4 separate regions of the Homo sapiens genome follow, and regions 1, 3 and 4 are each reported to be linked to region 2. The links are microRNA targets in miRTarBase. Many come from high-throughput screens and were not tested one by one. Region 2 holds a microRNA gene; each other region holds the end of a gene's coding sequence.
The links. Region 2 holds the annotated microRNA hsa-miR-10a-5p (UACCCUGUAGAUCCGAAUUUGUG, at 2,507-2,529, opposite strand). A microRNA usually pairs through its seed, bases 2 to 8, with sites in the 3' UTR of a target mRNA and lowers its output. Matches are read on the target gene's strand: a 7mer-m8 pairs with bases 2 to 8, a 7mer-A1 pairs with bases 2 to 7 and ends in A, and an 8mer does both.

Region 1: the mRNA of ODAD3 is a reported target of hsa-miR-10a-5p. The part of its 3' UTR that is shown has no 7-base or 8-base seed match.
Region 3: the mRNA of EXTL3 is a reported target of hsa-miR-10a-5p. The part of its 3' UTR that is shown has no 7-base or 8-base seed match.
Region 4: the mRNA of SLC41A3 is a reported target of hsa-miR-10a-5p. The part of its 3' UTR that is shown has no 7-base or 8-base seed match.

Annotation. Positions count from the first base shown.
Region 1 is chr19:11,417,788-11,421,125 of GRCh38, reverse strand. ODAD3 (outer dynein arm docking complex subunit 3) reads left to right here. Exons shown (of 13, transcript NM_145045.5): 13 at 179-521. The coding sequence ends at 291. It overlaps RGL3 (ral guanine nucleotide dissociation stimulator like 3), which reads left to right and starts at 1,812. Exons shown (of 19, transcript NM_001035223.4): 1 at 1,812-1,880; 2 at 2,342-2,455. The coding sequence starts at 1,848.
Region 2 is chr17:48,577,398-48,580,809 of GRCh38, forward strand. MIR10A (microRNA 10a) reads right to left here and starts at 2,550; the gene lies at 2,441-2,550. All of the region lies in intron 1 of HOXB3 (homeobox B3), which reads right to left. It overlaps HOXB4 (homeobox B4), which reads right to left and starts at 953. Exons shown (of 2, transcript NM_024015.5): 1 at 466-953. The coding sequence starts at 922. It overlaps HOXBLINC (HOXB associated long intergenic non-coding RNA), which reads right to left. Exons shown (of 1, transcript NR_183916.2): 1 at 2,920-3,412.
Region 3 is chr8:28,750,707-28,754,071 of GRCh38, forward strand. EXTL3 (exostosin like glycosyltransferase 3) reads left to right here. Exons shown (of 7, transcript NM_001440.4): 7 at 1-3,365. The coding sequence ends at 160. Among named protein-coding and RNA genes, the nearest start is that of EXTL3, 51 kb to the left of the region's middle. RefSeq lists enhancers at 1,067-2,011, 2,012-2,954.
Region 4 is chr3:126,004,000-126,007,411 of GRCh38, reverse strand. SLC41A3 (solute carrier family 41 member 3) reads left to right here. Exons shown (of 11, transcript NM_017836.4): 11 at 187-1,055. The coding sequence ends at 396. Among named protein-coding and RNA genes, the nearest start is that of ROPN1B, 37 kb to the right of the region's middle.

The sequences.
Region 1 (3,338 bases), not on the chromosome of region 2:
CAGTATGGGTGGGGGGATGAAGGGGTGCGGTTGGGGCCCCAAGCTGGGTAGCAGGAGGTTGTCAGATACCCTGTTCAGGGCCAAGGTGGGGGTGGAGTGGGGTGGTAAAGGGAAGGGGAGCCAGGGATGGGGACCTGGATCCCACATCGCTCCCTGCTCATCCCCCCACCCCCCTTAGACGAAGAGAGTGAGGAGGAGGACAACGAGGTAGTGACCCGCGCATCACTCAAGATCCGTTCCCAGAAATTAATCGAAAGTCACAAGAAGCACCGTCGCTCTCGGAGGTCCTAGACTCGTCCTGACACCCACCAGGCGGCCCCCTTCGGAGCCCCCGATCCCTCCGGGTCTAGCGCAGGCCCCACGGGGCCCCTTCAGGGGCTGAACGCGGCCCGGACCGGGAACGGAGGCGGCCAGCGGCGCCCGGAGGGGAGGAAGGGGCCGGGCCAGACGTTCCCACAGTAAATCTCCCCAGCTGGGTCCGCCCCGGCCTCAGAGTTGCGCAATAAATGTTACCGACCATGCCCCTGGGTATTCATCTGTTTTTGACCCTGCACCACCCAAGAGACGGCTGTCCCTGAAAACCCAGGGCCACAGACTGCCTCCTCCAACCTGGGTCATGATGACTCCCATCAGCTAGTGACGCAGATGGAGCTTAAAAATGGGAGATGGCCCGATGTAGTGGTTTTATGCCTGTAATCCCAGTATTTTGGGAGGCTGAGTTGGGAGGATCACTTGAGTCCAGGAGCTCCAGGCTGCAGTGAGCTATGATCGTGCTACTGCACTCCAGCCTGGGCCACAGAGCCAGACCCTGTCTCAATAAATAAAATAAGGGCGGGGTGCAGTGGCTCATTCATACCTATATTCCCAGCACTTTGGGAGGCTGAGCTGGGTGTGTCGCTTGAGCCCAGGGGTTCCAGACTAGCCTGGGCAACATGGTGAAAACCAGTTTTTACCAAAAAAAAAAAAAAAAAAAAAAAAAAAAAAAAAAAAGCTGAGCATGGTGGCATATGCCTGTAGTCCCAGCTACTTGGGAGACTGAGGCAGGAGAATGGATTGAACCCAGGAGGCGGAGATTGCAGTGAGCCAAGATCAAGCCACTGCACTGCAGCCTTGGCAACAGGAGTGAGACCCTGTCTCTAAAAAATAATAAGGCTGGGCGCCGTGGTTCATGCCTGTAATCCCAGCATTTTGGGAGGCTGAGGTGGGCGAATCTCTTGAGGCCAGGAGTTTGAGACCAGCCTGGCAAGTATGGCAAAACCCCGCCTCTACAAAAAATACAAAAATTAGCTGAGCATGGTGGCGGCACCTGTAATCCTAGCTACTTGGGAGGCTGAGGCACAAGAATCCTTTGAATCTGGGAGGCGGAGGTTGCAGTGAGTTAAGATCAAGCCACTGTACTCCAGCATGGGTGACAGAACGAGACTCCATCTCAAAATAATAGCAATAATAATAAAAAGTGGAAGATGCCCCCACACTTGATCAAGCTAGCCCCTTCCACTGGAGGACAGAGGACTCTGGTCTGGGGACACACACATGCCCCCACACAGGAGCTCCCCCACATCTGGGGATACAAAAAAGACCCCTTGGGGACAGATATGTCCTTTCTTCTGGGGACAGATTGATAGGCACCCAGCGGAAGAGCCAGGACCTCTCCTGGGCTGGCGCTGGGTCCGGCTGGAGGCACCCAGAGGCTGGGTCCGGCCTGCCCTGCCCCGCCCCGCCCCAGCAGCTCGGCCGCTCCGCCCCTCTGGCCTCAGCGCCCGGCCACTGCCCGCCGCCCGCCACCCGCCACCCGCCGGCCCTTCCGCCTCACTCAGCGGCGCCACTGAGAGGGACGGGCGCCGGCCATGGAGCGCACAGCAGGCAAAGAGCTGGCCCTGGTAAGGGGACAAGGGATCCCCGGACCCCGCATCCCTGGTGACCCGCAGGTCCAGAAACTCCAAGCGCCCGCCCGTCGGACGGTATCTGCTCCCAATCTGAACTTGCCCTGGAGTCCCCTCCTGGGGACTCGCGGCCCTTGACCCAGTGAAGCGACTGGTTCCTCTTAGGGATGGGGGCGCGAGTCTCTGAGCGCAGTCGGCAGAAAGAGCTAGAGACAGGTTCTATTAGACTGGGCCCTGGGACATCCCCAAATGCCACCCCATGTCCTCAGGACCTGGGAGGAGGGGACCCGCAGCGAGGAGGGGACTAGCCTGGGACCCCAGCCCTAGTCTCGCAGCTTCTGGCCGGGAAGGGGCGTGGGGATGCAGCAGGAGGACTCGGCCCGAGTCCGAGCGGCCAAGGAGGCTGAGGCCCCAGGACCTGTGCCCCTTTGGTGCCCTGAGTCCGCCTGTGCGTCCAGGCACCGCTGCAGGACTGGGGTGAAGAGACCGAGGACGGCGCGGTGTACAGTGTCTCCCTGCGGCGGCAGCGCAGTCAGCGCAGGAGCCCGGCGGAGGGCCCCGGGGGCAGCCAGGTGAGGAGGGGGTTTGGTGGGTGGCGCGGGGCCGGAAGCGACCAGTTGAGGGCGGAGCTGGAGAGCCGAGCACAGGCCGCCAGGTGCAGTGGGCGGAAGGAAGGGAGGGGCTCGGAGGCGACCAGATGAGGCGACCAGGTAGAAAGGGGACTGGGGGCGGCCAGGTAAGTGGGGGGAGATCCAGGGAATGGGGTGGGGCCAGGCGATGGCCGCGCAGTTCCCGAGAGGAGCCTAGGGACAACTTGGTAAGGACAGAACTGGACGGCAGAGTTGGGAAAGGCAGGTTTAGAGGGCCGGGGCTGGAAGGTGGAATGGGGTTGGTTTAGAAGTGGCTAGGTGAGGGCGGATGGGGCAGCCAGTGAAGCGCGACAGGAGGGCTGAGGGAAGCCCTGGGTGGAAAAGAGTGTGTGGGGCGGGGGCGGGGGGGTGGGGGGAGGGGACGGGAGGGGGAGGGGACGGGAGAGGGAGTAGGGGACAGGGCATGGGAGAGGGAGGGTTTCCAGGGCAAGTTGCAGGAGCTATTTGTGGATGGGGAGGAACAATAACTTCAAGCGGGCAGGGAGTGGGGCACACACCTATAATCCCTGCGCTTCGAGAGACCAAGGCAGAAGGCCAGGAATTGGAGACCAGCCTGGACAACACAGCAAGATTCTCTCTAATAAAAATAAAAATTAAAAAACTAGCTGTGCGTGATGATGCCCAGCAGTGGTCCCAGCTACTCAGGAGGCTGGGGCAGAGGGACCGCTTGAGTCTAGGACTTGGAGGCTGCAGTGAGCTATGATTGTGCCACTGCACCCCAGCCTGGGCAACAAAACAAGACCTGTTTCTAAAAAAAACAAACCAAAACAATAACTCCAAGAAGCCGGGAGACAGAGGAATCACA
Region 2 (3,412 bases):
TGCTCAGATTCCAAGCAGTGCCTACCCCTACTGAAAACTTTTGCTCACTTCTCCAGCCAAGGAGTCAGACTGGAAGAAAGGAAAAAATAAATACTGGGAGTTGACTCAACTCTCTGCTTAAATACGGATTACCTCCTCCTCCTTCTCCTCCTCCACCTCCTCCACCCCTCCCCAACTTCCAACTTCATTAAGACTGTATCTCCCTGGCGAAAAAGTCGCTGGTGAGAATGGTGAAGAGGATGGGGAACCTACTTCAAAGGCGCAGGGCCCACCAGGCCATAAAAATTTATGGGGGATGTAATTATGTGGCTCTGAAAACAGGCGACCGTAAATCTCCGGCAATGGCGAGTTTATAGCGGGGACAATTGGCTTCCCCAGCTCAACCCCCCCCCAACCCATGCCTCCGAAGTCCCTTTGGTGTAAAGCTCCAGGGGTGGGAGGGGGAAGGGGTGCCCACGCACTCACCCGTGCTCACGTGAACTTTGCGCATCCAGGGGTAGACGACGGGCTCTTTGCACGCGGAGTGGGACGGGCTGGGGTGCAGGGGGTTCTGGGCGCAGGGAGGCGGCGGGGGGCTGCTGCTGACCGCCTCGCAGCGCTGGCCGGGCTCCGGGAGGAGGGCCCCGGCGGGTGGCGGCGCAGGAGCCCGAGGGGACAGACCGGGCGGTGGCGGGGGCGGCGGGGGTGGTGGCGGAGGCGGCGGGGGCCCAGGGTCCCGGCAGGCCGCGTAGCGCTGCACGGTGCACGCCGCGCGCCGCCCGAAGCCCGCCTCCGGCTGGAAGCTGCTCTCTCGCCTCTGGCCGCCGGCGTAGTACCCGGGCGAGTGGTCGCTGGGTAGGTAATCGCTCTGTGAATATTCCTCGCATGGAGGGAACTTGGGGTCGACATAGTTTGAGTTGATCAAAAAAGAACTCATAGCCATTAATTTCTGGGAATTGCCCACAAAATATACTAAAATTTATTCCGACCCCTGACTCGTTTTCCTGTTTCCGAAAGCCCTCCTACTTACTGTCAAGTGAACAAAGTTAGGCGCCCACGTGATCCTCCGAGCCAATGGCCGCCCCGCCTGCGATTCCCGGATAAGGAAATCTGCTCACCCGGACCCCACTCCAGCCAAAGAGGTTTATTTCCCCTTCTTCCCTTCCCCCTCCCCACCCACCCACCCAACACCAGGATTTACATAGGGCTCCTGCGGGGCGACCCCCTCCTTGCCTCGCTCTCTCCGGGATCAGAGAGAGAGCGAGAGAGAGAGCGCGCGCAGGTTGCGACTGGAGGGCCTGTTGGGGCGCTAGGCAGAGCGCAAACCCTAGATCCCTTAAGAAGTTGGGGCTCCCGGTGTAGCCCTCCTGTTCTGCCTCACCTCTGCCCAGCATTCTGTACCTTCCAAAGGCCCCAGTCTCCTCCCCTCGGCGGGAGGGAGCGCTAGCACCCTGCGTCTCTATGGGGAGTTAGGTTACTGGCGGGTTGGGGGCTCCGTCTCGAAAGGGGAACCCATACGGGGGCCAGAGCACAGAGCTTGGGGCTTTTCTCTGCAGCTGGATGGGGAAGGGTAGGGGTGAGAGAGGAGGCGTCCAGAGCTAGAGGGCGGGTGCGCAGAGGGACTTGTCAGAGATGAATGGAACCGCGGGCGGATCGATAGGAAATTCATGCACTAATTCGGGGAGACTTCGCCTTCCAAATCTCATTTAGCTGCACGGTTAGCTAGACTGTGTCCGTCAGTCCGTCTGTCCCCCTTCTCCTATCCACTCCTCCCTTTAACCCACACGGCCCAAGCCTGGAGAAACGACTTGGTTTCCCACACTATAGACAGAGCGCTGGGGTAAAAAAACCTGCAACTTTTGAGAGCAAAATTGATTAGCAATTTGCTAATTCCATAACCACCCGAGCAATACTAACCATGGGTCCGAGACGTTCTAATTGTCGCCGCCTCCGCGGCGAATAGAAATCTCACATCCCTTTGATACTGGGGATACAGCCATAGAGGTGACCCACACAGACAATAACACTCCTTGGTAATCGAGTATTTCCAGGTCATCTTGTTCTGAACTGAAACGGAAAGGCGGCCTCAGCATCCGTTTGTTAAACAAATTTCCTTTGCCTTCTTCGCACACTGAAGACAAGTCATTTTTTTTCGCAATTTCCAATAAAGCCTCCCTGAGCCCAGAATAGAAAATGGGTGCGTTTGGGACGAGAAGATAAATTTAAAACTTCAACAACAATAACATTAACCTCTTAAAGAGATGTGAAAAGGGACCAAGGCTCCCAGGGGCAGGCGTGGGGAGAGTTCAGGTAGATGATTTCTCCATCTCTAACCAGTTGAAGGAGGAAAAGATAGAGGAATAAAGAGGAAGGAGTCTTCGTGTGGCCAGTCACCAGACTGTCCTCATTCAGAAAAATACTACATATACATATATATATATTTTTTTCTTCTGGAAAAATAAGAGCGGAGTGTTTATGTCAACTACATATTCCCCTAGATACGAATTTGTGACCACAAAATTCCTTACACAAATTCGGATCTACAGGGTATATACAGAAGACAGACAGATCTTCTTGGCCCAGAAATTTTCCAGTTCTCCTACTTTCCGCGCCTTCTTCGTTTGGGGTGTGGTTTGAGTGCTTTGGTTTTATTTCGTTTTGTTCTAGTTTTGAGCTCTGGGAACAGAAAAAGGCAGTGCGAGTCTGTTCTTGGGATTACAAGGTTTTCAATTCTCCTCTTCTATTAGAATTTCAAGTAGCCAGTTCGCAAAGGGACGAGAACCTTGCCTCCGCCGCCGCCGCGCAACTCTCGGTGGCGCATGAATTATGAGATGTAAACATTAGCTAAGCACAAAAGGAGGAAGGGTCATTCTGAGGCTGCCACGAAGTCAGATTCAGGCCTTTCTGGGTGCCTTCGCGCCCCTCCCCTCCCCCCAGGACTTTTTTTTTTTTTTTTTTTTTAGAAAAAACAAAACCCCAATCGGCTCCTCCGTGCCCCTCCAAGCCTTTAGTTTGTGATCAAACGAATATCTAGATATTTTCCAAAGCGCCTCTCAGCGAAGGGAGGAGGAAGAGGCGGCTGGGTGTGAAGGTGGTGTAATAAAAGTCCTTTTGGAAAAATTCAGTGGTAAAAAGAGAGAGAAACAGCTGTAAAGAAAAATGCTGGGAGACCAAGCAGATGGGGCCCCGGATATTTAATGACGGGCAATTCCGTTTACAACCTGAGAAAAGATCAAAGGCGTTTCATTTCCGAATGAAGGGCAATGAGGAACCATAAAAGATGCAGCCAGATGATATAGGGCCCCTCCCAGCCTCTCACACATCCTGGGAGCCAGGAGAGAGGGTCTATCCCGGGGAGGTGTGGGGAGGAACCCCATTTCCCCACCTTCCTAGCCCCAGACGGGTCCTTTCCTTCTAAACACATATGAACTCG
Region 3 (3,365 bases), not on the chromosome of region 2:
TCATGATGACTCCCACTTCCACGAGCGGCACAAGTGCATCAACTTCTTCGTGAAGGTGTACGGCTACATGCCCCTCCTGTACACGCAGTTCAGGGTGGATTCTGTGCTCTTCAAGACACGCCTGCCCCATGACAAGACCAAGTGCTTCAAGTTCATCTAGGGGCAGCGCACGGTCTGGGGAAGAGGATGAGCAGAGGGAGGAAGATGGCTCCCAAGGTTCCTAGGCATTGCAGGACCTTGGGCACATCTGCTGGTGGGTGGCCCAGAGCCTCTGCTGGAAGGGGCAGCAGGAGGAGTGGAAGGAAACCGCTGCCTTTATCTTGAAGTCAGCCACACTGGGCCTGGAGCCCTGGGCGGAGTCCCCGGGGTTCCCCACACAGGGCACTGACTGATAGCTTACACTGAGGACTGTGGCGACTCTGCAGAGTCACTCACACCGTTCGTACGCCCAGGACAGCTGGTTCGTGGTTTTTACATTCAATAACAACTATTATGATTATTTAAAAAGAGAAAGTTTCAGATTTGCCATTCAAGGCTTATTTATATATATGTGTGTGTATATAAATACATGCACACACTTGCATACATATATATTTTTGGCTGGGGGAGTGTGAGTTTTGCCTTTCTAAGGGAGGGACCGCGCAGGCTCCTTTGTTCTGTATTCTGGCGGAGATGGGTCCTGGCCTTGTGTCACTGGCTTATCCTTAAAGATCATCTCCCATCCTCCCCAGCGCCATCTGTGTGCAGCAACCAGAAAGGGATGAACTTGGCCCTCTTGCGGGCCTGGACAAGGTCTCTTCCTTACCCTTTCTGTTGCCAGTCAGCAACCTGTAACTCACATTCTCTTCCCAGTGAATCCCTGGGAGCGCCTGACCCTGGTGGGCTGTTCAGCTTCCTGCTGCTGGGGCCAGCGATTTTTGAGGATTTATCTTTAGGCCAGGCTTGCCTCCGTACTTATCCCTGCTCTCCCATTTCTCTCTTGTTTGAGAGAGAATGAGGAAGCAAAGAGTGAGAAAGAATAGGGGCTGAAGACGCCACTCCCAGATGGCTCTTTCTATCCTGCTCTTCTGTTGAAACACACGTGCTGTGGGCCTCAGGCGTTTCTGAAGTGCTCTTTCTTGGATTGGACAGGAGATCAGCAGCGTGCACATCTGCTGTGGTCTGAAGTGGTTTGCAGGTCAGCCTCCTCTCCCTAGTGTAGAGCAAGCCAGTGTCCTTCGAGGAACCCACCCGGCTGGCCGGGAAGTTTTACAGCAAGGCGCCTGCCTTGGGATAATTCCTTGGTGAAATTCACCTTCCCCCCGCCTCTGTCTGGAGCCCCATCCTGTGTTATCTGTGGTTTTTGGACCCCTAATGTCAGCTTGGCTGTAGGACTCCCCGAGGTTTGGTATGTGCTAGAACAATGGGAGGCTGTGATTTGCTGTGTAAGCTCACATCCAGCCTTGGAATCTAACGGGCATTCACAACCCGAGTTACCACTTTCCACTCCCTGCTTAGGATTCTGTTCCCTGGGCTGAAACTGAAATAAGCTAATTTTTTGGGTCACGGTGGCAGTAGGGGAACCTAGGAGGGTGTGAGTGGCATTTGTCAGGGATTTAGCCCATGACGTGTTTCTTGAACCCTACTTTCTGGAAGTGGAGTTGACTCTGGAAGTTTTCTAGCAACTGAACAAAAGCTCAGGTTTGTCCTGGTCATGCACATGCCTTAAGCCAGTTCCGTCTTCCCTAGACCTTGGCATCCTGTGCTTCTATTTCTTGGAATACGTTCTCCTCTGACCTGCCTGTACCACGTGGGTCCTCTTCAAGTACTGTTTTGAAGCTGGGCTCTTTTGTGTAGCTCCCACCCACCTGTAGGGCTAGCTCGGCTTAAGGGAACTCTCCCCATTGGCAAACCGGACCCGGCCGCCGCCAGGACTGTGTTTCCAAAGGTTCCCCGCCCCCAACCCCAGCATCAGCCTGTAGCTCCCCTGCTGAGGCAGTGTGGTTATGTTCCCAGCAGTGGGGGTCAGACGCCCTTCCTCAGAACTTTCTAGTTGCCCTCTACCTGACTCCTGACTTGTATTCCTTTTAGCAGTAGCCTTCTTCCCTCGGGGAGCCAAAGAGTGTGGTGTGTGGCGCTATATTGTGGCTGCTATTTCATCTGGTTTCTTTTAATGTGAGGAACTCACATACTGACTTCAGTGGGACTCGGTGAGCCGGGGCCGTCTGTGTGGTGGGACCCCCTTTAGCGGGACTCAGTGAGCTGGGGCCGTCTGTGTGGTGGAGCCAGGGCCTCTCCCTTTAGTGGAGCCAGGTTGTCGGGCCCCGAATGTCACTGGTGGATCTAAGAAGGGCTGAGTGGTCTGACACCAAAACATGCCGCAGGGAGGGCTGTGGTGCCGGTGCTTCCAACAAGGACAGCCCTCCTTGACCCTGAAAGGAACACTGGCTTGAAGGACTGCAGACAGGCTCTGAGGGGCACGCCCTCCTCAGCGAGAGGCAGCAAGGTGGCCACAGTGTCACTGGTCAGGTGCTTCTCACCACGGGAAAGCCGCCGACCTGTGACTCGCTTGAGATGGGAAAGCGGCGCCACAGACCCCGGGTCTCCTTGGCTGTCTGTGGGCCGCCCCTGGCCACCTTGTCCTGGCTCGCAGGGTGCAGGAGCGCCTCGTTCTCTGGGTGGCCGGCTTGCTGCTCCGGTTTGGGCTGTCTTACCATAACACCGTCCCAGGGCTCTGCAGGCCACTGTGAGCGCTGGCTCCCTGGGCAGTGCTCCTCCGTGTGGACTGTGCCTCAGGCCAGGGCTCACCAGCTGGGGTCCTGTCCGGAAGGATGGGATCTTTCTGGGAGCTGCGCCGGACAGAGTGGGGAGCTCCTAGTTTGTGGGGGGAAGCTTTGATATCCATGCCACGTCCATCCACCCCACCCCTTTTCGTCACGAGCACAATGGTCTTACATTGGATTTTTGTAAAAAAATAAAAATAAATGGAGACTTTAACTCAAGCAGCTTGGAGGTCTTTTGTGGTTTTCCTCAGCAAGTATGGAAGAGTGACCTGAGAGAAGGCACCTGCTTGATTGCTTGATTCCAGGTCGCCACCTGTGTATGCCAGCTGGGCCTGCTCGCAGAAGACGATGGGAGGCAGCCTGACCAGGCCCTGGTGTGGGCTGTGGACCAGAGATGGGTGAACAGACTCACACTCACATGGGCAGCCTTGCCTGTGCCCGGTTCCAGGGCAAGTCATTTTGACAAAACAGGAACTTAGGGGCTGTTGAGGTGCTTTAAGCAGGATGTGGAAGGGCATGTGGCCCATATATGCAAAGTTAATTTTTTCATGGGAATTTAAAATGCGTGTGTGTGTGTGTGTGTGTGTGTGTGTAGTGGTTGTG
Region 4 (3,412 bases), not on the chromosome of region 2:
TCACCTCTCTAGCCACTGCTTGAGCTCGGAGCTGGGCTTCAGACCCCAAGAGAAGCTGGATGAAGGAGGCTGGCTGGGGTTGACCTGTCCACCTTGGTATCTCTCCTTGAGCCTCAGCTAGTGCTTCCTGCCTGTACTTGACTTTCTGACTTGGTCTTCTTTTGTGTCTCTTTGCCCTTCTGACAGGTGACAATCCTGCTGTACCTCGCAGAAGTGATGGTTCGGCTGACTTGGCACCAGGCCCTGGATCCTGACAACCACTGCATCCCCTACCTTACAGGGCTGGGGGACCTGCTCGGTACTGGCCTCCTGGCACTCTGCTTTTTCACTGACTGGCTACTGAAGAGCAAGGCAGAGCTGGGTGGCATCTCAGAACTGGCATCTGGACCTCCCTAACTGGGCCCCGCTGGTCCCATTTGCTCATTAGAATTTCCTCTCACATCAGTGGGATACAGAATTCAGTTTCTCCCTTGCCAGGTCCTTGGGATGGTTGACCCCTGCCTCTGCAGTAGCCTTTTGTGAGTCTGCTAAGGTAGCTCTCACACACCTCGGCTCTGGGGTTGATACCTGAGCCTGCAATAGAGCCCTGAAATCAAGAGCATGGCTTGAGTGTGTGAATATGATGTGTGCACATGCTTAATGAGCGTGCAAGTGTGCACACGTTTGTGGAGAGGAGGGTGTTCTGGCCTGAGAAGGTAAAGAAGAGGCATGTCCAGTATGCTTTGCAGGGTGTGTTTGCTCTTTTCCATGCCCATGCAACCCAGATTGGGGTGGAGCAGGAAGGAGCTCTTTTCTGTTCCCAAGCCTCAGAACTCTTGAGCTGTGGCTTACTTGCTGTCTTCACCAGGTTCAAGCTCCGTGGGCCACACTGCTGCTGTGCCAAGAAGGTGTACAGCCTCCCCAGGATGGGGCCTCATACAACCCTTCATCTGCACTCAACATTTAATCGTGTCCTTGCTGTCTTTTTATTTTCCTTTTTGTTTGTTAGCAAAAACCTCTATTTAGATTTCAATAATCAGAGAAGTGTAAAATAAAACAGATTATATTGTACTTGACCCTTTATGTCTTTAAAGATAGTTAATGCAACCCTGAGGCTTGGGGTCTATAAATAACAAAAGCATCTGGCATTTCTCTAGTGCAGTGTTTCTCAAAGTGGCCTTCAGCCTAGAAACGTCAGTGTCACCAGGAAACTTGTTAGAAGTGCAAATTATTATCCCTCACCCCCTGGCCTGACTAGCCAAATCAGCATTTCTTGGGAGTAGAGCCAGCTATATGGGTTCCACAAGCCCTCCAGGTTTCTCATACACACCCACGTTTGAGAACTACTACTCGAGAACATCATCTTTAAAAAATGTATGATCATTTCCTGTCTCTTATTAACTCATCAGGACAACTGTAGCCATGCTTGGACTTGAAGATTATTATCTTCATGTGGTAAAACAGACATCTATTCATGTATTCAACAAATGTTGATATAGAACCTCTTGTTTTAATGTTCTAGAAGGAAAGACATGGTACATTAACTGGAATAATTGAGCAGACTTTAAGGAAGGCACAGTTTATAGGTGCATGGGGACCAGAAGAAGGGGTGAAGCATCCTGGGGCCAGGCACTACCAGACATTCACCTGTCCTGGAGAATAGTTGGGATTGTGGTTTCCTGAGATGCATGGGGATCTCTAAGAAAGAGACACAGCTACATCAGCTTGTGGCCTGGCAGAGAAAGCCAGGGAAATAAATATCCCAATCTCATTCTCTGTCCACCCTATTATCTCCTGCCAGTGTCTCCCATTGGCCAAACCCAACCAGAAGTTCAATGACTGGGGAGCCGCTTGACGATCCACAGAGGTTTCAGCCTCCTGGGGCACAGAGCCAGGGGAGGCTGGGGATAGATCTGGAGAGGCAACTGGAGAATATTCAGCACAACTATATGCCAAGCTCCATGCTAGATACTGGGGACACACTTGTGGGCAAATCACTCATCATCCCTGGTTCAAGTCCCTACTAGGAGAGATAGTCAACATCACACAAGTATTGAAAGTCCAGCTCTGATAAGTCTTGCAAAAGACAAGCATGTGATGCTACTGAAGCATGTAATGAGAGCTAAGATCTATCAAGCATCTTCTGTGTGTCTGGTTGTATCCTAAACATTTGACGTGTAAACTCTGATAACCTCACATTAAGTGATGCAGTACATACCACTCCCATTTGTAGATGACTGAAGCATTGTGAGGCTTCTTAACGTTACCAAAGCCCTATGGCTAGTGAGTGGTGGACTGATTTGAACAGACATTTGGGCTCAGACCCAAGCGATGTGTGTGCCAAAGAGGTTTGACCAACACCGTGTTACAAGATCCTAGAGGTGTTGCTTTTCCAGCCAGAAACCTCTGTGGCCAGTGGTGCCTTTGCCTGAGTTTTGCTCAGGCCCACTGGGCTTGTTCTGTCCACTCGGCCTGGCAGGCTGCGCTCAGCTCACGCTACCAGCCTGGGATCCCACACCTGCCAAGGGTGAGCCAGGCATGGAGTAATGAGGGGTATGTGAGCGAGTGAGCATGAGGTCCAACCACTGCACACAGCCAGGCACCCCAGCTGCTGTGGCAGGGCAGGCAGCTCCAGGCACTGGCACAGGCGCCGGCTCCATGCAAGGCTGCAACTGGATCAGATGTACCACAAGCAGCTTCCACTGCAGTTACCCACATCTGGACAAGGGGAACATGGTGGTGCCCAGAAGCTTGGAGACACCAGGTACCGCAGAGCCCCAAAGAGGGTGTCACAGCTCTGGCCTGGGGAGCTCTAAGGTCTGGGCTCCCAGAAGGGCTACAGCTCTTCTCTCCTTCTCATCGCCTGCCACATGGCAAGTGGGGGGCATGTTTCAGCCCTGTATTACAGCTGTTTGAGTCTTGCCATTCAGCGTGTCCCGAGTTTTTGTCCTGCCTCCAGGAGGAATGAGGTATGCAGACAACTGGAGGGTGAGCAAGACAGAGGGGAGCTTCACCAAGTGACAAAACAGCTCTCAGGAGACCCGGAGTGGGTAGCTGTTTTCCACAGGCAGGTCGTCCCAACAAGTGTGAGTCTGCCTGAGTCCAGGGTTTTTAATGGGCACAGAAGGGAGGAAGTGCATGCTGATTGGTCCATGAATGGCCATGGGTGGGCCTGGAAAAAGCACCATAAGTTCTCACTCCGGGCTGCCAACTCCACCCTGAACTGGCAGCCCGGTCCCCAGGCTTCAGGCCATTCCTGGATCGAAGTGGGGGTTTCAACAAGACCCCACCCCTTTCTGCCCAGGAACCTGTCTGCCTCCTGCTACCGACCTGCTGTCCATGGTATGGTGCCCAGGCTGTTTGTGTCAAAGGGCACCTGCAGGCCTGTGCCAAGCTGCCCCTAACCACCTCCCAGCCTCCCTCCCAAAGGAGG